4 linked regions of the Homo sapiens genome follow. The protein of the gene in region 1 purifies or fractionates together with the protein of each later gene. This does not show direct contact. Each region holds a gene or a part of one and is shown in the gene's direction. Other genes may lie near its edges. The genes, in order: DHX34, ARB2A, USP24 and ARG2.

Region 1 (7,608 bases):
GGTGTGAGCCACCACGTTGGGCTGCGAGGGTAATTCTTGACGATCACTGCAATGCAAACTGCCATCTTGGAAGGCCAATAATAGTCCTTCTGTCTCATGGTGGTCATGAGGATGAAATGGGTTGATATACATAAAGCACTTAGAGTGGCATATAATGTCCTGGCACATAGCAGGGACTCAAGAAAAGGTTATTGCTATATAGTTAATATTATATATACATGAGGCACAGTGCTAGATACTTTCTGTGCATTGTCACATGGAATTCTCACAGCATCTAGGAGGAGAACTATAAGGGATGGCATTGCCTGCCCAAGGTCAGTTGGCACTAAGTGGCAGAGGTGAGATTCAAACCCAAGCTGTTGGACTCCAGAGTCTGATGGGTAGGCATGGTATTTGCTTAGATTTTCTTTTTGCTTTTTCTTTTTTTTGAGATGGAGTTTCACTCTTGTTGCCCAGGCTGGAGTGCAATGGTGCGATCTTGGCTCACTGCAACCTCCGCCTCCCGGGTTTAGGTGATTCTCCTGCCTCAGCCTCCCAAGTAGCTGGGATTACAGGCATGCGCCACCACGCCCGGCTAATTTTGTTTGTATTTTTAGTAGAGATGGGGTTTCTCTATGTTAGTCAGGCGGATCTCGAACTCCCTACCTCAGGTGATCCGCCCGCCTCTGCCTCCCAAAGTGCTGGGATTACAGGCGTGAGCCACCGCACCCGGCCTGCTTAGATTTTCAATTTGGGCAGGGCCAGGGGCTGGTACCCAGGCTCAGGGTCCTCTCCTGATCCTTTCTTTCTCCCACCCCAGGTCGGCTACCAGATCCGCTTTGAGAGCACACGTTCGGCGGCCACCAAGATTGTATTCCTGACAGTGGGGCTGCTCCTGCGACAAATCCAGCGGGAACCCAGCCTGCCCCAGTATGAGGTCCTGATTGTGGATGAAGTCCATGAGCGGCATCTCCACAACGATTTCCTCCTGGGCGTCCTCCAGCGCCTGTTGCCCACGCGGCCTGACCTCAAGGTCATCCTCATGTCGGCCACCATCAACATCTCGCTCTTCTCCAGCTATTTCAGCAATGCCCCTGTGGTACAGGTGCCTGGGAGGCTGTTCCCCATCACGGTGAGTACTTCCCCCTCCTCCCACATCCCCAGACCTCCAACCTGGTCTCTGTCCAAACCTGGACATGCCTCTTCTCTCTGCTGCTGTATCTCCCATCTCTTTCATTTAAAGATGTTCTCTTTTTTTAAAGCTACCATTTTCTGAGCATTCATAATCAGCTGGTTAGAGTGCTAAGTGCTTGTTAGAGTAAAAGCTGTTACAAGAAGACCCAAAAATGGCTGGGCGCCGTGGCTCATGCCTGTAATCCCAGCACTTTGGGAGGCCGAGGTGGGTGGATCACGAGGTCAGGAGATTGAGACCATCCTGGCTAACATGGTGAAACCCCATCTCTACTAAAAACACAAAAACAAAATTACCCAGGCATGGTGGTGGGTGCCTGTAGTCCCAGCTACTCGGGAGGCTGAGGCAGGAGAGTGGCGTGAACCTGGGAGGCGGAGCTTGCAGTGAGCCGAGATCGCGCCACTGCACTCCAGCCTAGGTGACAGAGTGAGACTTTGTCTCAAAAAAAAAAAAGACCCAAAAATGTAAAGTCTCAAATAAGAGAAGTTTATTTCTCTCATATAACAGTGTGGCTGGTCCAGGCTGTTGGGCAACTCTGTTCCATGTGGTCATTCAGGGATCCGGGCTCCTCCTTTGTCATTACTCTGCCATCTCACTGGGCAGGATTTCTCAAAGTCAGCAAGATTGACATTTCAGTCTGGATAATTCCTTGTCGTGGGGGCTGTCCTGTGCATTGTAGGATATCTAGCAGCATCCCTGGCCCTACCCACTAGATGCTAGTAGTCTTCTCCTCTGGTTGTGACTATTAAAAATGTCTCCAGACATTGCCATATGTTCCCTCTGGGGCAAAACCACCCCTAATTGAGAAACACTGTCCTAGTGAGTTATCCTTGTCTGTATAGTCAAGACTTACAGGAAGAACTTCATTGTCTCTTGTGATTTCTGGTTCCGGATGCCCATCAATTTGCCTTCTAAGCAGCCATAAAAAAAGAAAGAATGGGTCGGGCACGGTGGCTGGTGCCTGTAATCCCAGCACTTTGGGAGGCTAAGGCAGAAAGATCACGAGGTCAGGAGCCCAAGACCATCCTGGCCAACATGGTGAAATCCCATCTCCACTAAAAATACAAAAATTAGCTGGGCATGGTGACGCACGCCTGTAATCCCAGCTACTTGGAAGGCTGAGGCAGGAGAATTGCTTGAACCCGGAGGTCGAGGTTGCAGTGAGCCAAGATGGCTCCACTGCACTCCACCCTGGGAACAGAGCAAGATCCCATCTCAAAAAAAAAAAAAAGAAAGAAAAGAAAGAGAGAGAGAGAGTGCGAGCCGAGTGTGGTGGCTCATGCCTATAATCCCAGCACTTTAGGAGGCCGAGGCGGGTGGATCACCTAAGGTCAGGAGTTCGAGACCAGCCTGGCCAACAAGGTAAAACCCCGTCTCTACTAAAAATGCAAAAATTAGCTCGAGTGGTGGTGCGCCCCTGTTATCCCAGTTACTCAGGAGGCTGAGGTGGGAGAATTGCTTGAACCTGGGAGGTGGAGGCTGCAGTGAGCCGAGATCATGCCACTGGGTGACAGAGCGAGACCCTGTCTCAAAAAGAATGAGGCTGCTTCCTGAGAAATGTTTTCTAGGGTTTTTGTTTTTTGTTTTTTGTTTTTTTTAGTAGAGACGACGTGTTGCTATGTTGTCTGCCTGGTCACGCATACCTGAGCTCAAGCAATCCTCCCGCCTTGGCCTCCCAAAGAGCTAGGATTACAGGTGTGAGCCAACTATGCTGGGAAATCAGCCAACCAACCTGGCTCAGGCTCAGGGTCCTCTCCTGGTCAGCCAACCAACCTGATTTCTAGGTTTTTAATCCTGGTTTCATCACCTAGAATATTTTTCTTGTTGAAGCTACTCTAAACATAAGATAATGCATGCATTGTAAGTATATAGCTTAATTAGTTTTCACCAGTTACATACATCTGTGTAGCTAGCACCCAGGTTTAGAAAAGTCAAACATTGCCAGCACCCCACAAGCCTTGCAGTTGCTTTGTTACTTTGTCTTTTTATTACATCCTTCAGAAATTATCTAGCTGGAGTGTGCTGTCTGTCACCTGACTGTTTCTCAATTAGGGGTGGTTTTGCCCCAGAGGGAACATATGGCAATGTCTGGAGACATTTTTAATAGTCACAAGCAGTGGAGAAGACTACTAGCATCTAGTGGGTAGGGCCAGGGATGCTGCTAGATATCCTACGATGCACAGGACAGCCCCCACGACAAGGAATTATCCAGACTGAAATGTCAATCTTGCTGACTTTGAGAAATCCTGCCCAATGAGATGGTGGCATAATGAGAAAGGAGAAGCCTGGATCCCTGAATGACCACATGGAACAGAGTTGCCCACCAGCCTGGACCCGTTGCACTGTGTCTTCTCCGTTAGCCTGTGGTCTCCCCCGTCAGCCTGCAGCCTCCCCAGCCCATTGCTCTGAGCTGGAGGGACAGGGTGTGCTTCTACCTGGGGCTGTCTCCTCTCAGGTTGTGTACCAGCCGCAGGAGGCGGAGCCGACCACGTCCAAGTCAGAGAAGCTGGACCCGCGGCCTTTCCTGAGGGTGCTGGAGTCCATTGACCACAAGTACCCGCCTGAGGAGCGGGGTGACCTCCTCGTCTTCCTCAGCGGCATGGCGGAGATCAGCGCCGTGCTGGAGGCTGCCCAGACCTATGCCAGCCACACCCAGCGCTGGGTGGTACTGCCACTGCACAGCGCCCTGTCTGTGGCCGACCAGGACAAGGTATCACAGGAAGCCCGAGTGGGGCAGGCGGGGGGTCTGCATGAGTCAGGGGTGGCTGCGCACAGGACTTGTGTAACTCCACAAACACAGGGCTCGGGGGCTGTACTTGTGCAAAGTCGTAGCCACCTAGTGGCAGAGCCAGGCTGCGAACCCAGGTAGTCTGGCCCCGGAGCCCATGCTCTAAACCAGAGGTCGGCAAACTTTCTATAAAGGGTCGGAGTAGATGATGTCAGTCCTATCGACCATGGGCTCTCTGTCTGTCACAGCTACTCAGCCCCACTGTTGCAGCATGAAAGCAGCCATAAACTGAGTGGGTGAGGCTGTGTTCCAAAACAGTTTTTTTTTTTTTTTGAAACAGGGTCTTGCTCTGTTGTCCAGGCTGGAGTGCAGTGGCACGATCAGGGCTCACTGCAGCCTTGACTTCTTGGGCTCAAGTGATCCTCTCTCCTTAGTCTCCCAAGTAGCAACTATAGGTGTGTGTCACTAAACTCCATTAATTTTTTTTTCTTTTTGGGACAGAGTCTCACTCTGTCGTCCAGGCTGGAGTGCAGTGGCATGATCGTGGCTTACTGCAATCTCCACCTCCCGGGTTCAAGCGATTCTCCTGCCTCAGCCTCCTGAGTAGCTGGGACTACAGGCACCCGCCACCACGTCCGGCTAATCTTTTGTATATTGAGTAGAGACGGGGTTTCGCCATGTTGGCCAGGCTGGTCTCGAACTCCTGACCTCAAGTGATCTGCCTGCCTCAGCCTCCCAAAGTGCTGGGGTTACAGGTGTGAGCCACTGTGTCCGGCCTCCGTTAATTTTTTTTTGAATTTTAGTAGCAAAGAGGTCTCACTGTGTTGCGCAGGCTGGTTTCAAACTCCTGAGCTCAAGCGATCCTCCCCTAGTGGGGGCAGTGCCAGTTTATGCTTCAGCAGATCCCTCTGGCTGCCATGTGAGTCTACAGGCCAGAGATCTGAGGGGAAGCTGGAGTAGGATCAGAGTGGGCGAGGAGAGGCCTGGACCAGGGCAGGGGCTGGGCTGTCGGAGGAGGGAAGGATTTCAAGAAAAGTTCCAGATGGCCTGGTACATTGGCTCATGCCTATAATCCCAGCACAGGAAGCTGAGACAGGAGGATCACTCGAGCTCAGGAGTTAGAGACCATCCTAGGCAACACAGTGAGACCTTGTCTCTACAAAACGGAAGAAAACTAGCTGGGCATGGTGGCATGTGCCTATAATCCCAGCTACTTGGGAGGCTGATGCAGGAGGATCGCATGAGCTCAGGAGGTCAGGGCTGCAGTGAGCTGTGATCACGCCACTGCACTCCATTGTAGGCCACAGAGTGGGATCCTGTCTCAAAAAAAAAAAAAAAAGTTCAAGATGTTCAGGTCGGGGGAGCAGGTGTGGTGGCTCATGCCTGTAATCCCAGCACATTGGGAGGCCAAGGCAGGCGGATCACCTGAGGTCAAGAGTTCAAGACCAGCCTGGCCGACATGGTGAGACCCCGTCTCTACTTAAAATACAAAAATTAGCCGGGCATGGTGGCGGGCACCTGTAATCCCAGCTGCTCGGGAGGCTGAGGCAAGATAATTGCTTGAACCCGGGAGGCAGAGGTTGCAGTGAGCCGAGATCACGCCACTGCACTCCAGCCTGGGCGACAGAGCAAGACTCCGTCTGAGGGTGGGGGAGGGCCCAGGATGGCCCAGGTGATGGGGTGGACGGTGAGCCATCTCCAAAAGGGAGGTCTCTGAAGGAGGAAAGGGTTCCAGGGAAGCTGCTGACACGGGGGTGGGCAAGAAATTGGACACATAGGTTAGTCGGGGCTGAGTTAGTTCCTGACACCACCCCCTCCCTTCCTCCCAGGTATTTGATGTGGCACCCCCTGGAGTCCGGAAATGCATCCTCTCCACCAACATTGCTGAGACCTCAGTCACCATTGACGGGATCCGCTTCGTAGTAGATTCCGGTAAGGACCACCATGAGCCCCTACCCACCACCCCCAAGGACTTAGGAGCATGGGGTCCGGAGGTGTGCGTGTGTGGCAGGGGCGCACCAGCTTGGATTGGGAAGTACAGTTGACTTTCCCATATCCAAAATGCTTGCTTGCAACCAGAAGTGTTTGGAATTTCGGGTTTTTTTGAATTTGGAATATTTGTATCAATTTTATTATTTGAGTATGTCAAATCCAGAAATCTGAAATCCTCCAGTGAGCATTTCATTGGAGGGTCACGTTAGTGCTGAAAACATTTCAGATTTTCGAGCATTTCAGACTTTGGATTTCCAGAATTGGGATGCTGGAAGACGATGTGTGGGGCCATGGACCAATGGCAACATCTTAGTTTTTCTCACACCTTCCAAGCCTGCTTCTGCCCTGGGGCCTTTGTACTGTTCTCTCTGCCGAGAGCTGTCTTTCTCCAGGTATCCACACAGGTGACGCCCTCACCTCATTTCAGGGCCCGCATAAATGTCCACCCGTCAGAGAGGCCCATACTGTCCACTCTGTCTAAGAGATATCCCCTCCTCCATCCGCTGTTGCTTGTCATATGAGGGGGATTGACATTCTGTTTGTTGTTGTTGTTGTTGTTGTTGTTGTTGTTGTTTTGAGACGGAGTCTTGCTCTGTTGCCAGACTGGAGTGCAATGGTGCAAGCTCCGCCTCCCGGGTTCAAGTGATTCTCCTGCTTCAGCCTCCCAAGTAGCTGGGATTACAGACATGCATCACCACGCCCGGCTAATTTTTGTATGTTTAGGAGAGATGGGGTTTCACCATGTTGGCCAGGCTGGTCTCGAACTCCTGACCTCAAGTGCTGCCTGCCTCAGCCTCCCAAAGTGCTGGGATTACGGGCATGAGCCACCACGCCCAGCCCGACATTCTATTTTATGTGCTGCTCTGTTTGCTCACTTTCTGTCTTCCTGACTGGAATGTTCTCTGGGAAGTCAGCATAGCATAGTGTTTGGAGACACTGGAGCCTGCCTGGCCAGGTTTAGTGCTGGCTGTGTGGCTGGGGTCATGTGACTGACACTTCATGTATCGGTTGGCTCATCTGAAAAATGACAATGGCAGGCCGTCCCGGCTGGGCGCGGTGGCTCACACATGTAATACCAGCACTTTGGGAGGCCAAGGCAGGCAGGTCACTTGAAGTTAGGAGTTTGAGACCAGCCTGGACAACATGGTGAAACTCCGCCCCTACTAAAAATACAAAAATTAGCCAGGCATGGTAGTGCGTGCTTGTAGTCCCAGCTGCTCAGGAGGCTGAAGTGGGAGAATCACCTGAGCCCAGGAAATCGAGGCTGCAGTGACCTGTGATTGTGCCACTGCACTCAAGCCTGGGCAACAGAGCGAGACCCTGTTTAAAAAAAAAAGAGAGAGAGAGAAATTAAAAAAATAATGTCTGCCAGGTGCTGTGGCTCATGCCTGTAATCCCAGCACTTTGGGAGGCTGAGGCAGGTGGATCACCTGAAGTCAGGAGTTCAAGACCAGCCTGGCCAACATGGTGAAACCCCATCTCTACTAAAAATACAAAAATGACCCGGGCATGGTGGCGGGTTCCTGTAATCCCAGCTACTCAGGAGGCTGAGGCAGGAGAATCGCTTGAACTCAGGAGGCAGAGTGAGCCGAGATTGTGCCATTGCACTCCAGCCTGGGCAATAAGAGTGAAACTCCATCTCAAAAAAAGAAAAGAAAGAAAATGTAAAAAAAGGTTGTTCTGACACTGGAGGAAATATGGTGCTCTGTTCAGTCCT
Region 2 (7,608 bases), on another chromosome or scaffold:
GTTATAAAGCTCATTTAAATCAATTACTTTGCTTTAGTTTAATGAATGAAAAATTGTATGACAATTTTACTTGTAACTCCTTGGCAAATTAAAATTGATTAATTTACTGCAGATGAGATGGCAGATGACTGACTCAAGGTTTCACAGCTAAGTTACAGAGAAATTAGAGACAGAAGTGCTATGCTGCTTTCTCTAATATTGTTTGTTGTCTCCATTTGGAGGAAATGATCTCTTTTGTAATATACGTAATTGAGATAATTTTTGCTTCAGAGAAAATAACACTGTGAAGACCATCAAAGCAAAGCATTTCTTCATATCAGATTATTTATGTTTTACTTGGAAATTGCTAAAGGAGTAGTTTTTATTTCATTTTTAAACTTTTATTCCTTTCCAACTTTTATTTTAGTTCAGGGGGTACATGTGCAGTGACCCGATAGGTAGTTTTTCAATTCTCATCCTCTTCCCAACCTCCACCCTGAAGTAGACCCCATTGTGTATTGTTTCCTTCTTTCTCCATGTATACTTAATGTTTAGCTTTCATGTATAAGTGAGAACATGTGGTATTTGTTTTTTTTTTTTTTTTTTTTTTCTGCATTGATTCACATAGGATAATGTGAAGCTCCATCCATGTTGCTGTAAAGGACATGATTTTATTCTTTTTTATGGCTGTGTGGTGTTCCGTGGTGTATATGTGCCACATTTTCTTTGTTCAGTCCACTGTTGATGGGTATGTAGGTTGATTCCATGTCTTTGCTTTTTTGAATAGTGCTGCGATGGACATATGAGTACATGTTGTCTTTTTATTAGAATGATTTATATTCCTTTGGGTAGGTACCCAGGAATGGGATTGCTGAGTTGAATGGCAGTTCTTTCTGTTTTAGGTTCTTTAGAAATTTCCAAACTGCTTTCCACAGTGGCTGAAATTTACATTCCCCCCACCACTGTATAAGCATTCAGTTTTCTCCACAACCTCATCAGCAGCTGTTATTTTTTGACTTTTTAACAATAGCCCTTCCAACTGTTGTGAGATGGTTCTTATTTTGGTTTTGATTTGCATTTCTCTAAAGCTCAGTGATGTTGAGCATTTTTTCATATGTTTGTTGTCCATGTGTATATCTTGTTTTGAGAATTGTCTGTTCATGTCCTTTGCCCATTTTTTATGGGTTTTTTTGCTTTTTAATTTGTTTAAGTTCCTTATAGATCCTGGCTATGGGACCTTTGTAGGATGCATAGTTTGCGAATTTTTTTCTCCCATTCTGTAGGTTGTCTGTTTACTGTGTTGATAGTTTCTTTTGCTGTGTAGAGGCTCTTTAGTTTAATTAGGTCTTTCTTTTCAATTTTTGTTTTTGTTGCAGTTGCTTTTGGAGTCTTCATATGAAATCTTTGCCAGGGCCTAGATTCAGAATGGTATTGCCTAGATTTTCTTTTAGAGTTTTTATAGTTTAAGGCTTTACATGTAAGTCTTTAATCCATCTTGAATGGATTTTTGTGTATGGTAAAAGGAAAGGGTTCAGTTTCAATCTTCTGCATATGGCTAGGCAGTTATCCCAGCACTCTTTATTGAATAGGGAGTCCTTTTCCCATTACTTATTGTTGACTTTGTTAAAGATCAGATGGTTTTAGGTGTGTGGCTTTATTTTTGGGTTCTCTATTCTGTTCCATTGTTTTATGTGTCTGTTTTTTTTTTTTTTCCAGTACCATGCTGTTTTGGTTACTGTAGCCTGGTAGTATAGTTTGAAGTCAGATAGTGTGATACCTCTGGCTTTTTTCTTTTTGCTTAGGATGGTTTTGGGTATTCAGGCTATTTTTCAGTTCCATATGAATGTTAGATATTTTTTCTAGTTCTGTGAAAAATGTCATTGGTAGCTTGATAGGAGTAGCATTGAATCTGTAAATTACTTTGAGCAGCATGGCCATTTAAATAATATTGATTCTTCCTATCCATGAGTAAGGAATATCTTTCCATTTGTGTTGTTTCCGATTTCTTCAGCAACATTTTGTAATTCTCATCGTAGAGCTCTTTCACCTCCCTGTTGAGCTGTATGCCTAGGTATTTTATTTCTTTTGTGGCTATTGTGAATGGGATTGCATTCTTGATTTGGCTCTCAGCTTGGACGTTATTGCTGAAATGCTACTGATTTTTTTGACATTGATTTAGTATCCTGAAACTTTGCAGAAGTTGTTTATCAGATCTAGGAACCATTGGGTAGAGAGCATGGGGTTTTATAAGTGTAGAATCATATCATCTGTGAACAGAGATAGTATGACTTCCTTTTAATTTGGATGCCTTTCATTTGTTTCTCTTGCCTAATTGCTTTGGCTGAAATTTCCAGTACTATGTTGAATAGTTGTGGTGAGAGTGGGCATGCTTGTCTTGTTCCGGTTTTCAAGGGAAATGTCTCTAGCTTTTGCCTATTTAGTATGATGTTTGCTGTGGATTTGTCATAACTGGCTCTTTTTATTTAAGGTATGTTCCTTCAATGTCTAGTTTGTTGAAAATTTTTAACACATGTTAAATTTTATCAAAAGCCTTTTCTGCACCTATTGAGATGATCATATGGTTTTTGTTTTTAGGTTTGTTTATGTGTTGAATCACATTTACTGATTTACATATGTTGACCCAACCTTGTATAACAGGAATAAAGCCATTTTGATCATGGTAGATTAGGTTTTTGATGTGCTGCTGGTTTTGGTGTGCTAGTGTTTGTTGAGGATTTTTACATCTATATTCATCAGGGATATTGGTCTAAAGTTTTCTTTTTTCGTTGTGTTTCTACAAAGTTATGGTATCAGAATGATGCTAGCTTCATAGAATGATTTGACGAGGAGTCCCTTCTCATTTTTTGGAATAGTTTAGTAGGGTTGGTTTCAGCTCTTCTTTATATGTTGGGTGGAATTTGGCTGTCAATCTATCTTTTCCAGGACTTCTTCTGGGTGTAGGCTTTTTATTACTGATCAATTTTGAAATTCACTATTGGTCTGTTCAGGGTTTCAATTTCCTTCTGATTCAATCTTGGGAGGTTGTATGTTTTGAGGAACTTATCCATTTTTCTCTAAGATTTCTAGTTTGTGTAGGTAGAGGTGTTCCTAATAGTCTCTGAGAGTTTTTTTTTTTTATTTCTGTGGGGTCAGTTGTAATGTTCACTTTGTCATTTCTGATTGTGTTTATTTGGACTTCTTTCCTTTTTTCTTTATTTGTCTAGCTAGTGGTCTGTCAATCTTATTTATTCTTTCAGAGAACGACGTTTTGGTTTCATTGACCTTTTGTATAGTTTTTCATGTCTTAGTTTTGTTCAGTCAGCTCTGATTTTGGTTTTTTCTTCTGCTAGCTTTGGGGTTAGTTTACTTTTTTTTTTTTTGGTTGCTCTAGGTGTGATTTTAGGTTGTTAATTTGAGATCTTTCTAACTACTTGATGTAGGTGTTTAGTGCTATATACTTTCCTTTGAAGACTGCTTTAGCTCTGTCTCAGAGAATCTGGTATGTCATTTCTTCCTTTTCATTAGTTTCAAAAAATTTATTGAATTCTGTCTTAATTTCATTGTTTACCCAAAGTCATTCAGGAACAGATTGTTTAATTTCCACATAATTATATGATTTTGAGAGATCTATTCTTGTACTGTGGTTAAGAATGTGGTATAATTTCAGTTTTTTTTTTTTTTTTTTGAATCTGTTGAGAATTCCTTTATGGCTGAGTGTGTGGTCAATATTACAGTATGTGTCATGTGCAGATAAGAAGAATGTATATTCTGTTGTAGTTGAGTGCAGTGTTCTGTAGATATCTGTTAGGGCCATTTGGTCAAATGTCAAGTTTAGGTCCTGAATATCTTTGTTAGTTTTGTGCCTTGATGGTCTGTCTAGTACTGTCAGTGGGTGTCAAGGTGAGGTCTTCCACTATTATCGTGTGGTTATCTAAGTCTCTTTGTAGGTCTCTAAGAACTTATTTTATGAATCTGGGTGCTCCAATGTTGGATGCATGTATATTTAGGGTAGTTAAAGTTTTCATGTTGAATTGAACCCTTTATCATTATTTAATGCCCTTCTTAGTCCTTTTTGATTATTGTTGCTTTCAAGTCTGTTTTGTCTCAAATTAAAAGAGCAATCTGTCTCTTTTTTGTTTTCTGTTTGCTTGATAGATTTTTCTCTATCCCTTACTCTGAGTCTGTGGGTGTCATTGCATGTGAGAGGGGTCTGTTGAAGATAGTATGTAGTTAGGTCATGTTTCTTTATTCAAATTGCCACTCTGTGTCTCTTAAGTGGTGTAGTTAGTCCATTTACATTCAGAGTCAGTATTGATATGTGAACATTTGATCCTGTTATGCTGTTATCTGCTTGTTATGTAGACTTAATTTTGTAGTTGCTTTATGGTGTCAATGGTCTGTGTACTTAAGTGTGTTTGTTTTTGTGGTGGCCAGTAATGGCCTTTCAATTTCATATTTAGTGCTTCCGTAAGGACCTCTTATAAGGCAGGTCTGGTGGTAGTGAATTCCCTTAGTATTTGCTTATCTGAAAAGGATTTTATTTCTCTTTTACTTATGAAGCAAAGTTTGGCTAGATATGAAATTCTTGGTTAGAATTTCCTTTCTTTAAGAATGCTGAATAAAGGTCCCCAGTCTTTTCTGGCTTGTAGGGTTTCTGCTGAAAGGTCAGCTGTTAGCCTGATGGGGTTCCCTTTGTAGGTGACCTCTCCCTTCTTTTTAGCTCCCTTTAAGATTTTTTCTTTCACTTTGACCATGGAGAATCTGAAGACTATTTGTCTTCAGCATGGTTGTCTTGAATAGCATCTTACAGGGGTTCTCTGCAGTTTCTGAATTTGAATGTCTACCTCCCCAGTGAGGTTAGGGAAATTTTCATAATTTTTAATTATGTTTTCTAAGTTGCTTTCTCATGTCTCTCTCTTTCAGGGATGCCAATGTGTCATATGTTTGGTCTGTTTACATAATCCCATGTTTTTTGGAGATTTTGTTCATTCTTTTTATTCGTTTGCCTTTATTTTTGTCTGATTGAGTTCATTCGAAGAATTGGTCTTTGAACTTTGAGATTCTTTCCTCAGTTTTGTCTATTCTTTTCTCAGCACTTCTGATTGTATTATGAAATTCTTTTAGTTTTTCATCTCTATCAGATCAGTTTGGTTCCTTCTTAAAATGACTATTTCATCTTTAAGTTCTTGTATTATTTTATTGGATTCCTTAGATTCCTTGGATTGGGTTTCAGCTTTCTCCTGAATCTTGATGATTCTCCTTGCCATCCAGATTCTGAATTCTATGTCTATAATTTCAGCCTGGTTAAGAACCATTCTTTGGCAGGTGGTGCAGTCATTTGGAGGTAGGAAGACACTCTGACTTTTTTTTTTTTTTTTTACTTTGGAATTATTAATATTATTTCCTATGATATAACATAGTTAAAGCTAATTTTCAGGAGGAAAGTTTCATTTTGTAATTATTCATTATTTACACTATGACGGGGAGGGCTTTAGTATTCTTTTTTTTTTCCTGGTTATTCCTTTTTTTAAAAAATTATTTTAGGTTTGGGGATACGTGTGTAGGTTTGCTACATAGATAACATGTGTCACAGGGTTTGTTGTACATATTACTACATCACCCAGGTATCAAGCTCAGTACCCAATAGTCATCTTTTCTGCTAATTGCCCTCCTCCTCACCTCCCTCTCTTAAGTAGACCCCAGTGTCTGTTGTTCCTTTCTTTATGTTCATGAGTTCTCATCATTTGGCTCCCACTTACAAGTGAGAACATGCAGTCAGTATTTGTTTTTCAGTTACTGTGTTAGTTTGCTAAGGATGATAGCCTTCAGCTTCATCCATGTTCCCGCAGAAGACATTATCTCATTTTTTTATGACTGTGTAATATTCCATGGTGTGTATTTACCACATTTTCTTTATCCAGTCTGTCATTGATGGGCATTTAGGTTGATTCCATATCTTTACTGTTGTGAACAGTACTGCAGTGAACATTCACGTGCTTGTGTCATTATGGTAGATAGTCTTCCTCTGAGTGTATACCCGGTGATGGTATTGCAGCGTCAAATGGTAGCCCTGCTTTTAGTTCTTTGAGGAAACGCTATACTGCTTTCCACAATGGTAGAACAGATTTACACTCCTACCGACAATGTATCAGGGTCTCCACAACTTCGCAGGCATCTGTTATTTTTTGACTTTTTAATAATAGCCATTCTGACTGGTGTGAGATGGTATCTCATTGTGGTTTTGATTTGCATTTCTCTAATGATCAGTGATATTGAGCTTTTTTTCATATGCTTCTTGGCCACATGTATGTCTTTTAAGAAGTATCTGTTCATGTCTTTTGTTTACTTTTTAATAGGGTTGTTTGTTTTTCTCTTAGAACATTGTTTAAGTTCCTTGTGGATGCTGGACTTTCTCCTGAATCTCCATTTTTGCCAACTATGCATCTGATTAAGACAGATTTTTTTTCCCATTCTGTAGGTTGTCTGTTTACTCTGTTGATAGTTTCTTTTGCTGTGCAGAAGCTCTTAAGTTTAATTAGATCCCATTTGTCCGTTTTTGCTTTTGTTGCGATTGCTTTTGGTATCTTTGTCAGGAATTCTTTGCCCGTTCCTAGGTCCAGGATGGTATTGCCTAGGTTGTTTTCCAGGGGTTTTATAGTTTTGGGTTTTACATTTAAATCTGTAATCCATTTGAGTTTATTCTTGTATATGGTATAAGGAAGGGGTCCAGATTCAGTCTTCTGCATATGGCTTGCCAGTTATCTCAGCACCATTTTTTGAATAGGGAGTCTTTTCCCCTTGGCTTGTTTTTGTCAGCTTTGTCAAAGATTAGATGGTCGTAGATGTGTGGCCTTATTTGTGGTCTCTGTATTCTGTTCTATTGGTCTATATGCTGGTTTTTGTACTCGTACTATGGTGTTTTGGTCCCTGTAGCCTTGTAGTATGGTTTGAGGTCGGGTAACATGATACCTCCAGCTTTGTTCTTTTTGCTTAGCGTTGTGTTGGCTATTTGAGCTCTTTTTTGGTTCCATAAAATTTTAAAATAATTTTTTCTAGTTCTGTGAAGAATGCCTTTGGTAGTTTGATAGGAATAGCATTGAATCTATAGATTGCTTTGGGCGGTATAGCCATTTTAATGATGTTGATTCTTCCTTTCCACCAGCATGGGATGTTTTTCCATTTATTTGCGTGTCATCTCTGATTTCTTTCAGCAGTGTTTTGTAACTCTCATTGTAGAGCTCTTTCACCTCCCTGATTAACTGCATTCCTAGGTATTTGTGTGTGTGTGGCAGTTTTGAATGGGATGGCCATTTTGATTTGGCTCTCAGTTTGGTTGTTGTCGGTCTGTAGGAATGCTAGTGATTTTTGTACATTGATTTTGTATGCTGCAACTTTGCTGAAGTTGTTTATCAGCTGAAGGAGCTTTTGGGCTCAGACCATGGGGTTTTCTAGATATAGAATCATGTCATCTGCAAATAGGTAATTTGACTTCCTCTCTTCCTATTTGGATGCCCTTTATTTCTTCCTCTTGCCTAATTGCTCTGGCTAGGACTTCCAATACTATGTTGAATAGATGTGGTGAGAGAGGGCATCCTTGTCTTGTGCCGGTTTTCAGGGGAATGCTTCCAG
Region 3 (4,136 bases), on another chromosome or scaffold:
TGGGAAAATAACCTAGAGAACTATGGATTGAAGGAAATTGAAGAGGAAAAATAGCAAGGACTTAGGCCCAGGACGGCTTTGAATGCGGCTCAGCACAAATTCGTAAACTTCTTAAAACATGATGAGATTTTTTAAAAGTTTCATCAGCTACCATTAGCGTTAGAATATTTTATATGTGGTCCAAGACAATTTTTCTCCTTCCAATGTAGCCCAGGGAAGCCAAAAGATTGGACACCCTTGGCTTAGATGGTGGAGTCAAGGGAACTAAAGATATGACCCCAGTGTGCCAATGCCAAAGGTGAGAAGAGAAAGCAAAGAAAGCAGGCCTTTAAAGAGGTAGAGGAATCCTCAAAGGTGGAAAGAAACAGGGATAGGATGCTGCCCAAGAGGCAGGGACAAAGAATCGGAGCCAAAGACTGCGGTAAAAATGTGGGAAGGTGATGTCCACGATGTTCGAACGAGTCCGTGGCCGAAGGAAGTAAGAGTCTGGGTTTCTGGAGGTTTTCATACAGAGAACTGGGATTTAGATTTCGGGCTGGAAAAATATATTTTGGACTCTCAGGGGCTTTCAGGGTAAGAGTTCGGTAGAGTTCAGTCAGCTTGGCGGAGACAGGTAGTCAGTTAATGTTGGAAGGAAAATTCGGACAGCTGGGAATTAATTTCAACGGGTTTAGGGTGATTTCGGCAAGGGCTGGCGGGGCTAGGGTCGAGTGTGAATTTCGTCTTGGGTGGTCCACGCGTCTGGTTTGGGCAGGAATTTCTGTGGGCAGCGAGGCGTATTCAGGCAGCGTTGCGGGTGAATCTGCGTGGGATGAGGGTGGATTTCCTTCAGGACTGCGGTGCATTTCAGGCCGGGGTGGAGGTGCCTCACAGCCGCGGCGCAGGGAATTCCCTCTAGGATGGGGGAGCGGGTCGGGCGGCGCCGGCCAGGGAGGGGAAGTCCAACGGGGGTTCGGAGAGGCTCGGGGGACTCGGACGGAGAGAAGCCGGGTCGCGGCTGCGGAGGCTCGGCCGGCCAAGGGATTTCCGCGACGTTCAGCGCTGCGAGCTGCGCGGCGCTGCGGCCCCTCCCGTCCCGGGGGAACCTGTTGCCGGCGAAACAGGCGGGCGGTGGCGACGATGGAGAAGCCTTCCTCGCCTCTGCCTGGCTGCACGGCAGCCCTTTCACCTTAGGCACGCTCCGCGGCGCGGCCCCTCCCTCCGCTCCTTCGTTTAAAACAAACAGAATACGCCGCCGCCAACCCTAGCCTGCCAACGGCGAGCACGGTCGCCTCCCGTGCCGCTTCCGGGAGCCGAGGCGCGGCCCCGCCGCCCGGGGAGGAGGAGGCGGAGGGGGAGGAGGCCAACATGGCGGCGCGCAGGGCTGGGCCGGGCCGCAGCCGCGCCTGAGCGCCTCACCGCACTAGCTCGGCTCGCAGGACCCAAGCCCGCACCCAGCCTGGCCCGGCTGCTGCGGAGCACCCGGGGCAGGAACGCAGGGGCCAACCTGGGCGCGGAGGCGGCGCGGAGGGTGCGCCGCGCGGCCCGCCAGGCCCGGGACCCGTAGCTTCGCCGTGCGCTGGCCGGGGCGGCCAGGAGGCCCAAGCCATGGAATCGGAGGAGGAGCAGCACATGACCACGCTGCTGTGCATGGGCTTCTCAGACCCCGCCACCATCCGCAAGGCCCTGCGCCTGGCCAAGAACGACATTAACGAGGCCGTGGCACTGCTCACCAACGAGCGGCCGGGCCTCGACTACGGCGGCTACGAGCCCATGGACAGCGGCGGTGGCCCCAGCCCCGGGCCCGGCGGGGGCCCGCGGGGCGACGGCGGAGGTGACGGCGGCGGCGGCGGCCCCTCCCGCGGCGGGAGCACCGGAGGCGGGGGCGGCTTCGACCCCCCGCCCGCCTACCACGAGGTGGTGGACGCGGAGGTGAGGAGGGGCAACCCCAGACCTCTGTGGGAAGCCACTGGGCTGGAGTTCCTGGGAGGGGACACACCCCGCTGGGCTTGGTGTGGGGAGAGAGGGCATTCGACTGGGGCTTTAGTGGGGGCGGGGCGGAGAGAGAGAGAGAAGCCCCAGGCTCCAGTTGGGAACCGAAGTCACTTGATTGGGGGTAAGTGGGGAGAGGGACCCATAGGAGAGGCGTGTGAAAGGGAATTAGGGATGCGCAGCGGAGCTGTGGGTTGGGGTGAGGAGGGGTCCCTTAGGCTTCCGGCTATGCACGCCGACGATGGGGAGGAGGCTCCAGGGCTATCATCCGAGATGGGAGGACAGACACTTGAGCATATAGTGGGAAGGATGCGTGCAGTAGGGGGTCGGAAATGGGGTACTAGTGCACTAGGCTAGGTCGGAGATTTTGTGGCACGAGGTTTCAGTGAAGGATTGGCGGAGGCACCAGGCTCAGAGTCAGAAAAAGCGGTGTGGGCCGGCCAGAGTAGTGGTCTTTGACAGGATCACAGGAAAACTGTTGGGGTTAGGAGTGAGGTTGGGGTTTTAGCCAAGGGTCGGAAAGGGGGGGCATTGAGTAGGATTTAAAATGAAGAGGGAAGGGGCCGCGGCCAGGAATGAGGACTTGAATAAAATCAGGTATGAGAGCAGTGGGGATTGCACTGAGAGGGCAGAGGTGGGAGGCCTGGGCAGGGGTGGGAGCTGAGGAGGGTCTAGGCAGGGATGGGGACTGGAATTGGAAGATAGAGCTGGCACCAGGTCTGGGTAAAGAGGGAGTACTGGTCATCGATAAGGTCAGAAATGAGAGAAAATTAGACCGGGGAAAGAGATGGTAGTCATACTGAGGGTGCTATGCAGAGGGGCGCGGAACAGGGTGGGAGCGCAGTGGGGGTGGAGGAGGAGTCTTGAGGCTAATGGCTTTGATCAGAGACCTCAAGTCTAGGTGGAGAAGACTATGCCTGTTTAGTTTGGGGTGTGAGCAAGGAACGTGGGGGAAGAAAACGGACTCTTCTATAATAAAGAAAAAAGATCGACCAGAAGCAGCAGTGCTTTTGAATAATTACTTTGCAGAAACATAGTAGCTCATGGCAGGAATTTTGGTCAGATTCGTTGGGTAGTTCATTTCAGGGGCCAGTAGAGCAGCTTGGCCTGACCACAGAAAAGCACAGATCTCAAATTATTGGGATTGCGTTATTAGGTAGAGATACGAATTTGGTTCGTTCTTAATGAAGAATTAAGCTTAGTGAAGCTAAGCCTTTTGAAACACTTTTTCCTGAGCAGTGTTATATCCTTTTAATTGTATGCTTTTGCAACAGTTCCTCGGGCTGAAGTAGCTTGAACAAGAAGGTGGCACTTAAAAAGAACAGGTTTCTGCACAAGATTTCTTTGGCTTCCACACTTAGACACAGTTGCTAGATTGCCCTCTGTAACCCACTAACTTAGCTGTATCGTTGACTAGTATATGGAAATAAAGATTGTTACTATTCCTAGTTTGGGAATTTTTTTAAATTCCCATATAATTGAGTAACCATACTTAAGTCATTTTAAGAAATCAGCTTCTCATTGGCAGTTCCTATCACTCCTCCCTCGTTCCTTCTAGTTTTTGACCCAGTTTTGAAATCAAGAAGAAAGCCGTTGCTTTTTCAGAAGGTGTTTGTATAACTCTGCAAAGCTCAGTGTATCCTCATTATGTGAGAAATGTGATTCTTTTTTTCTTTTGTCATACCTTTTAATTTCCTGTGATTGGAAAATCAATTTAAATTACAATGCTTGGTGCATTCATGTTAACATTAGCGCTAACCTTAGCTTACTGCCAGTACATGTAAGTACAAAGAATTGGGAGTGGCTTCTTACGTGAATGGCAGGCTAAGGAGTTTGGTTTGCGGTAAATTAAAATCCATAAAATCTCCATCTTTTCGAAGCAGTGCATCAAGTCCTCATTTCTCCTAGACCTGTGGATTTGGCCTGGGGGAGGGAAGCTGCACCGTTTACTTTTAAGAGTTCAAGAGGAGCTGGTGACTGAGGCTGCTTTACCCACGAAGCGTATTGGCAGAGGTTGGCAGGCTGAGACTTTCCTGACACACAGGAGCCTTTTGGAAACATTTAACGCAGAATGTGCCTCTGTGGTTTAATAATCTTAATGCATGCCACCTATGGAACTTCTTGGTCATCCTTGGTGTACACAGTGGGAAACTGAGGCTCTTGAT
Region 4 (7,608 bases), on another chromosome or scaffold:
GTGTCCACTGTCTAGAAGCTTTTGCCCATATTAAGGCATGTGGGAAACCAACTGAATAGCCAGAATGCTGTTTGGTGAGATGGCATCGGAGTAAATGGAGTTGGACAATGTGGACAGAATCCACTACCCAGGTTGGGAATTAATCTGATGAACCCCCGACAGAAGTTAGTAACCCTTCTAGCACCTGTAATGAGAGCAGAGTGGTGGCCTGAATTAGCGACTGAAATCCTTCTATGAAATTCAGTCTCTCTTCCTGGGAACGTTACTGTAAGATTGCCAAATTCTCTTTAGGTTCCTTTTTAGGCTTTGTGCAGCTTTTTTCTAATACAAGTGAGTACTGTTTTCTGTCACGTTTATCTGAGTCTACATCCTGGTTTGCATGATTGGACTTGGGTAGTCCCAAAGTTCTGTGACTTATCCACTGGATTGAGCACTTTAATTTCCCTGTATTTCTTCTTGGTCCTATGAGGATTGAATGAAAGTGCTTGGCAAATAGTTCTGAAACGTTAGTTAATATTATTTAACTCCAGTTTGGGGCCTTTTATATGACTATTCCTTAGAGTGCAATTACCAAAATATAAATTTATAAAGATTATAAATCTTTTATAATTGTACACCTAATATTATAAAACACCAGGCATACCCTGGTGTCTTACATCTAGTAAGAACCTAATGGTTGATGTGATTTAAGGAGAGTGCTGAGATAAACATGGAGGTGAAAGTAGAAACATCCAGGAATTGTCCATTCAAGATCTGTACAGTACACTGGGTGCAGTGGCTCATGCCTGTAATCCCAGCACTTTGGGAGGCCGAGGCAGGTGGATCACTTGCGGTCAGGAGTTCGAGACCAGCCTAGCCAACATGGCGAAACCCTGTCTCTACTAAAAATACAAAAACAAATTCACCAGACGTGGTGGCGCACACCTGTAATCCCAGCTACTTGGGAGGCTGAGGTAGGAGAATTGCTTGAATCCAGGAAGTGGAGGTTGCAGTGAGCCGAGATTGTGCCACTGCACTCCAGCCTGCATGATAGCGCAAGACCCTGTCTCAAAAAAAAAAAAAAAAAAAAAAAAAGTCTGTGCAGTCCAGGATTGTGTTGTCAACAGACAGAGGAAAGACTTGATATTGACTTGAAGGTTAATTAAAGCTTTCATTCTCTTAAGTCTAAAGTATCCTCTCCATATTTTGAGATTTGGTGAAGTCCATAATGACTTTACTCAAACCTTTTTGTCTTTTTTTAAAAAAATAAAAGATTTTTATAGATGTTTTATTTGGTTCACATTTTTATCTTGGTTCACAATGTCTTTGGCCTGTTGTCATATTTTTCTCCTCCTACCCCTGCTCTGCTACCTTTTTATCTGGTTGTCTGGATCTTCTCCAGGTTGGGGCCTTTTATATGACTATTTCTTAAAGTGTAATGACCAAAAGATAAATACAGAATTCTTGCTGTAGGTGTATCTCACCTTTAAGAATAGGTCTGGGTGACACAAGGGCTGGGGAGGAAAAAAAGAATAGGACAAAGTTTTCTGTCTTGTTTCCAATATCTCTTGCGGTGGCAATTCCTTGGTTGGCCTCATGGCTTTTTGTTATGGTCACTGCTCCTCAAATTTTTATATTTCTTCAGAATTTTGGCTTTGGATTGAGTTTGGGTTCAAGAGGTAGAGCTCAAAATTATAATTTAAATTCATGATGAGTCCATGCTGCTCTTAATCCGAACCTTTAACACAAATCTCTGCAAATATTAAGATACGCCACGTCTTATCTTGTTACTGCCCCTTTCCCACCAATACCAGGACCCTAAGAATATAATCTATGTCAATGTTCTGTTCTCTGATAGTTCAGATCCCTTTTTGATACAGTCAGATTATTTAGTCCTCATCCTAAATGTAGCATCCAACTTAGGTGGGGAAATATTCAAAGCTGTGAGAATATAGCACTAGTTCTTAAAGTGTTGGACTCATGAGGAATTCCTTAGGAGACAAACTGCATAGTAAAGGATAGAGGTTGAGCGTCCCTAATCCAGAAATCCAAAATCGGAAATGTTCCAAAATCTGAAACTTTTTGAGCACCAATATGACATTACAAGTTACCCTGAACACACTGTATTAATGGTATGTCATATTTTCTGCTTTTAAGTACTTATGTGTGAAAAAGTAAGAAAATAACTGCCTATCAGTAGCATATAAATTCAGAGTCAGGAAGATGGTGATGCCAAACAATCATATTGTCCACATGGGTGGCTGTGATAGTGACACCTTTGTTTTCTGATGGTTTAATGCACACAAACTTTGTTTCATGCACAAGATGATTTAAAATATTATATAAAATTACCTTCAGGCTATGTGTATAAAGTGTGTATGAAACACAAGTTTTGTGTTTAGACTTGAGTTCCATCCCTAAGATATCTCAATATATATATAATGCAAATATTCCAAAATCTGAAAAAAATAAAAAATCTAAAACACTTCTGGTCCCAAGCCTTTGGATAATGGGTACTCAACCTGTACAAACTTTGGAGCCAGATGGCCTAGATTTGGATCCTGATTCTGGCACTTAATAGCTGTGTAACTTGGGCGGTTACTTCTCTTTGCTTCAGTTTCCTCATCCACCAAATAGGCACATTTTAGTTGCCTCACACAACTGTTTTGAGTCTTAAATAAGAATTTATGTTAAGCAGCTAGAACAATGCCTGGGATCTTGTAAATAATCAATAAATATTAGATATTTCTTTTAGGATGTTTCAGATTGGCTATTTATAAAAGTTTATAATATGTGAATTTCTTGGCCAGGCAGGTGGCTCATGCCCATAATCCCAGCACTTTGGGAGGATGAGGCGGGAGGATCAGTTGAGGTCAGAAGTTTGAGACCAGCTGGGGCAACATAGCAAGACCCCATTTCTACAAAAAGAAAGTTTAAAAAAATGAGACTCTCTTTGTGTATTTTTTTGCTAAATTAATAGTACTTAATTTCCTTTAAAATTGTTGGTTCTTAATTTTCTTTAAGATTGTTGGTTCTTTTTGATATTTTATTTCTACTCTATCACTCCAGGATATCTGAGGTCTAATGGTTAACCATTTTTTTATTGTTGGGTTAAGTCAATCGATATCTCTTAGTTTCAGTTTCCAACATCTGCAAAACTGTTCATAATAGGATCGAGATAATCTTCCCACAATCATTTGACATTTTAAATTTTACTGTGACAAAATGATTATGATGTGTACTTTGTCACGTATTATCATTGTGGCCCAGGCTAGTTAAGAGTTGGAGATAGCACAGAAAATTCATCTTGTCATCCCTCATTTGCTTCCAGGCTGCCACCTAAAAGACTTTGGAGATTTGAGTTTTACTCCAGTCCCCAAAGATGATCTCTACAACAACCTGATAGTGAATCCACGCTCAGTGGGTCTTGCCAACCAGGAACTGGCTGAGGTGGTTAGCAGAGCTGTGTCAGATGGCTACAGCTGTGTCACACTGGGAGGAGACCACAGGTAAGCTGGGAGCCAGGCGTGGTGAGGGGATGGATTACATGGTGCTTGGGGCTCATAACTTAGCTTCTTTATCTGTTTCTTCATCTGGAGAAAAATACCCTACAGAATTTTTAGGGTAGATATTAAAATGAACAGCAAGCATTTAAATGTCTAAGATCCTGAGCTGCTCAAGGGGCACTGTGGTTTTCTTTGTATGACACATTGCACAGTAAGAATATGTACATTCAGACACAGCAAGTTCAGAGGTATACTAGGCAAGGTTCCTAGGCACTGTGTTAACATGCTTGTCTCCTGGAAAGCTTTCTTGAGACTTATCTTATGACTTTGGAGAATTAGAAAGATCCATTGATAGGCTGAATGTGCAAGTTTTTGTTAGCATTTCTGCTAATAGACCTGTTAGAAATCCCCTTTGGCATGTTACTACATTTTCTTTTTTTTTTTTTTTTTTTTTTTTTTTGAGATAGGGTCTGGCTCTGTTGCCCAGGCTGGAGTACAGTGGCATGATCTCAGCTCACTGCAACCTCTGCCTCCTAGGCTCAAGCCATCTTCCTACCTCAGCCTCCCAAGTAGCTGGGACTACAGGTGCATGCCACCATGCCTGGCTCATTTTTGTATTTCTTGTAGAGACAGGGTTTGGCCATGTTGCCCAGACTGGTCTCGAACTCCTGAGCTCAAGCGATCCTTCTGCCAAGGCCTCCCAAAGTGCTGGGATTACAGGCATGAGCCACTGTGCCCAGCTGTGGATACATTTTCTGCCTCCACAATATGGACCCTAGTGACTCATGCAATCAGTCCTTTGATCCTGTCTCCTCCTGAATCAGCATGTACTTTATTGAGCACTGTTCTGATATTTTCTCAGCAGTGCTAGAGATTGCAGGAAATTTGTGATATATTAAGGCCTAGATGAAATAAATATACATGGAATAAACAAAAATATTGAATTCTACAGAATTTCAAAGGAGGAAGAGATCAGTCTGGACTAAAATAGATTTCACAAGGGAATGTGATTTGAAATAAGCAATGAAGGTCTTCAGTAGGAAGAAGGCACTGAAGTACTAGGAGTATTGAGCACTCCATACATATTCTCAGTTAATTCTGCTAACAATGCTAGGTGGTAGATATGGTTTTATCATTTACTGCTGGAAGCATGTAGGGACAGATATATAAGAACTTATCCAAGGTGGGCACAGTGGTGCATGCCTGCAGGCCCAGCTACTCAGGAGGCCAAGGTGGGAGGATTGCTTGAGCCCAGGAGTTTGAGGCCAGTCTGGGCAACACAGTGAGATCAGGTCTCTTAAAAATAAATAAATAAGAAAGAAAATATAACTTATCCAAGGACTAGAACCAGGAAATAGAGCTGGGATTCAAATCCAGTGTGACTCTTCTGGTGATTATTTTCCCTGAGGTGCTGAGAAAGCTTTTCAGATCACTGAACAGAAATGAAATCTTTGTTACATCTGGAGAAGCAGGTAGATTCCTCCTTGGGAGTAAAAAAAAAAAAAAAAAAAAAAAAAAAAAAGACTCAGGTTGAAGAAAACGGTCACACCCAGGTTCCCTACTGAGATGACTAGGCCATTCAATTAAATCAACCAGAGGGCAAGTCTCCTGCCTCCTTTCTCAGTGTAGTCTCTGGAAATTTATTAAGTCTGTCTGCTGTTCTGAGTTCTGGTCAAGTCTCACTGTTTGGGGACCACTGATCAATGTGATTACCACAGATCTTGTTTTCTTTTCCTGTGGCTATCTATATTGCAGCCATGTTACTGCTTACCAGCTCAATGTTAAAGCTTAGGCAATCTGAAATTCTAGAGAGGAAGAGATAAGTGCATAACTTGAATAGCTGTTGAACATTTTCAAGAAGAGCCATTTTTAGGTCACTGCTCCTTTTATGTAGTTTAACATATATTACTACTTTAATCATCAAAGCAACTCTGATTTACACAGGCCAAGTATTATTATTATCCCTATCTCACAGAAAAGGAAACTGAAATCTAAAGAAATTAGATGGTTTGTCTTCAGTCACACAGCTCTTCCAGGACTAAAACTCTAGTATTCTGACTTAATCCACTGCCTTTTCACTAGACCATGCTATTCCTCAAAAGACCCAACCAGTGTGGGACATGGCACCTAGAATAGCTGTCTCATGCTATATTGACCAAGAAGGATGGTTGCAGTCCTAAGATGCTTAAGCTGCATTTCCCATCTATGTCAAATTCCTTGGTTACTGGGAAGCTTTCCAACATTTATTTCATCAGGTGTATTCTTAGAATTGAGACAGAACAGTTGGCTAATGTAAGCAGAGCCCAAGGACAAGGAAAGGCAAAAACAGAAATACACTTTAAGATCTTATATTTGAGGCTGGGCATAGTGGCTCACGCCTGTAATCCTAGCACTTTGGGAGGCTGAGCCAGGTGGATCACTTGAGGTCGAGTTCAAGACCAGCCTGGCCAACATGTTGAAACCCCATCTTTACTAAAAATACAAAAAATTAGCCAGGCATGGTGGCATGTGCCTGTAATCCCAATTACTCGGGAGGCTGAGGCAGGAAAATAGCTTGAACCCAGGAGGCGGACGTTGTAGTGAGCTGAGATTGCGCCACTGCACTCCAGCCTGGGAAACAGAGCGAGACTCCGTCTTAAAAAAAAAAAAAAAAAATTGAATGCCATGCTAATATATATAAGGTAACATGCAATACATCTTTTTACTCAGTGGTCTAAATTAGGTCTTTAATGGTTTACCCTGTTAATGTCTCCAAGAGCTTTTCTTACAGATTTTGGTGAGTCGTTACCTATAGACTGTACCATTTACCTAGATTTCTTTTTTTTTTTTCATTTTTGGAGACAGGGTGTGACTATTTTGCCCAGGCTGGTCTTGAACCCCTGGGCTCATGTGATCCTCTCACCTCAGTCCTCTGAGTAGCCAGGATTACAGGTGTACACCATCTTGTCTGGCTTAACTTGATTTCATTCATTGAACAAATATTTGAGGTTCTTTTCTGAGCAGGGCTAATGGATAAAATTATACGGATTTGGGGACAGGACAGCAGTGACATCTGTCACACTGCAGGGTAGCAAGTCACCAGCTTCGAATCTCTAGGGCTTTATCACTCAAGATTAATTTTTGAGAACTACAACTACAGGTCTTGCCTCACCCAAACCCAGTCTCCATCTAGGCCCTGGCTTTGCACTGTGGAGAGAGTATAAGTTGTTTTGGCTGAGGACGTTTGTTATCGGTCATGTTTGCCAAGCAGAGGGCCTTCAAGATTATACTTGTTCTTTGCAGCCTGGCAATCGGTACCATTAGTGGCCATGCCCGACACTGCCCAGACCTTTGTGTTGTCTGGGTTGATGCCCATGCTGACATCAACACACCCCTTACCACTTCATCAGGAAATCTCCATGGACAGCCAGTTTCATTTCTCCTCAGAGAACTACAGGATAAGGTCAGTGGGCCAAAACGAAAAGAAAGGTGAATGGCTTGCAGGGTTTTGCTGGAGTTGGTCTAGTTCAGTTAAGATTTTGGTGAAGGGTGGGTTGAGTGTGGATTACCACTCCTTCATTTGTTCATCACTATTATGGACCAGGCAGTCTGCCAGATGCTAGGGGTATAAAGACTAGACATAGTCTCTGTTCTTTGTAAGAAAGCAAGGAGGGGGTAGTAACAATAGCGACTGATATACCCACAGCCTGAGGACTTCTTGGTTAGAGGCTCCCAGGCCATACTCTCAGACACACTGATCTAGAAGACAAATAAAACCATGACCTCTGGGTAATATTTTCCTGAGCAGTTCAGAATATATGGGAGTCCATGTTAGGCACAGACTAGAATCTGTATATCCCTCCCCTCAGTGAGGGACCAAGTCAAACCAGGACACTACAAAGATTATTCATTGGGCGGAAGTCCTGTGTCGGCTGTTGGCAACTTGAGATGGCAACCAGGTTATGCTTCAAGAACCAATCTGTAAACAAGTCAGTAATGTGCAATGGGATAGAAAAGGGCTAATCAGCAGTATTCCTGCTACTAGGTAAGTTAATGAGAAACCAAGACAACCTTAGAGATTTTATTCGTCTTGAGAAAGCAATACTGTGTTCCTCAGCTGCCCTTCTGAAACATTTCCACCTTG

The links.
Region 2: the proteins of DHX34 (region 1) and ARB2A purify together in Homo sapiens (affinity purification with mass spectrometry; one large-scale study listed by BioGRID and IntAct). This does not show direct contact.
Region 3: the proteins of DHX34 (region 1) and USP24 purify together in Homo sapiens (affinity purification with mass spectrometry; one large-scale study listed by BioGRID and IntAct). This does not show direct contact.
Region 4: the proteins of DHX34 (region 1) and ARG2 purify together in Homo sapiens (affinity purification with mass spectrometry; one large-scale study listed by BioGRID and IntAct). This does not show direct contact.

What each region holds. Positions count from the first base shown.
Region 1 is NC_000019.10:47,354,240-47,361,847, forward strand, and holds part of DHX34 (probable ATP-dependent RNA helicase DHX34), read left to right. Parts: intron 1-799; coding exon 800-1,111; intron 1,112-3,626; coding exon 3,627-3,881; intron 3,882-5,728; coding exon 5,729-5,831; intron 5,832-7,608. UniProt on the Homo sapiens protein: Probable ATP-binding RNA helicase required for nonsense-mediated decay (NMD) degradation of mRNA transcripts containing premature stop codons. Promotes the phosphorylation of UPF1 along with its interaction with key NMD pathway proteins UPF2 and EIF4A3.
Region 2 is NC_000005.10:94,099,852-94,107,459, reverse strand, and holds part of ARB2A (cotranscriptional regulator ARB2A isoform 1 precursor), read left to right. Parts: intron 1-7,608. UniProt on the Homo sapiens protein: Plays a role in the regulation of alternative splicing, by interacting with AGO2 and CHD7. Seems to be required for stabilizing protein-protein interactions at the chromatin-spliceosome interface. May have hydrolase activity.
Region 3 is NC_000001.11:55,212,565-55,216,700, reverse strand, and holds the start of USP24 (ubiquitin carboxyl-terminal hydrolase 24), read left to right. Parts: upstream 1-1,336; 5' UTR 1,337-1,587; coding exon 1,588-1,911; intron 1,912-4,136. UniProt on the Homo sapiens protein: Ubiquitin-specific protease that regulates cell survival in various contexts through modulating the protein stability of some of its substrates including DDB2, MCL1 or TP53.
Region 4 is NC_000014.9:67,638,876-67,646,483, forward strand, and holds part of ARG2 (arginase-2, mitochondrial precursor), read left to right. Parts: exon of another isoform or gene 1-838; intron 839-3,310; coding exon 3,311-3,488; intron 3,489-6,767; coding exon 6,768-6,927; intron 6,928-7,608. UniProt on the Homo sapiens protein: May play a role in the regulation of extra-urea cycle arginine metabolism and also in down-regulation of nitric oxide synthesis. Extrahepatic arginase functions to regulate L-arginine bioavailability to nitric oxid synthase (NOS).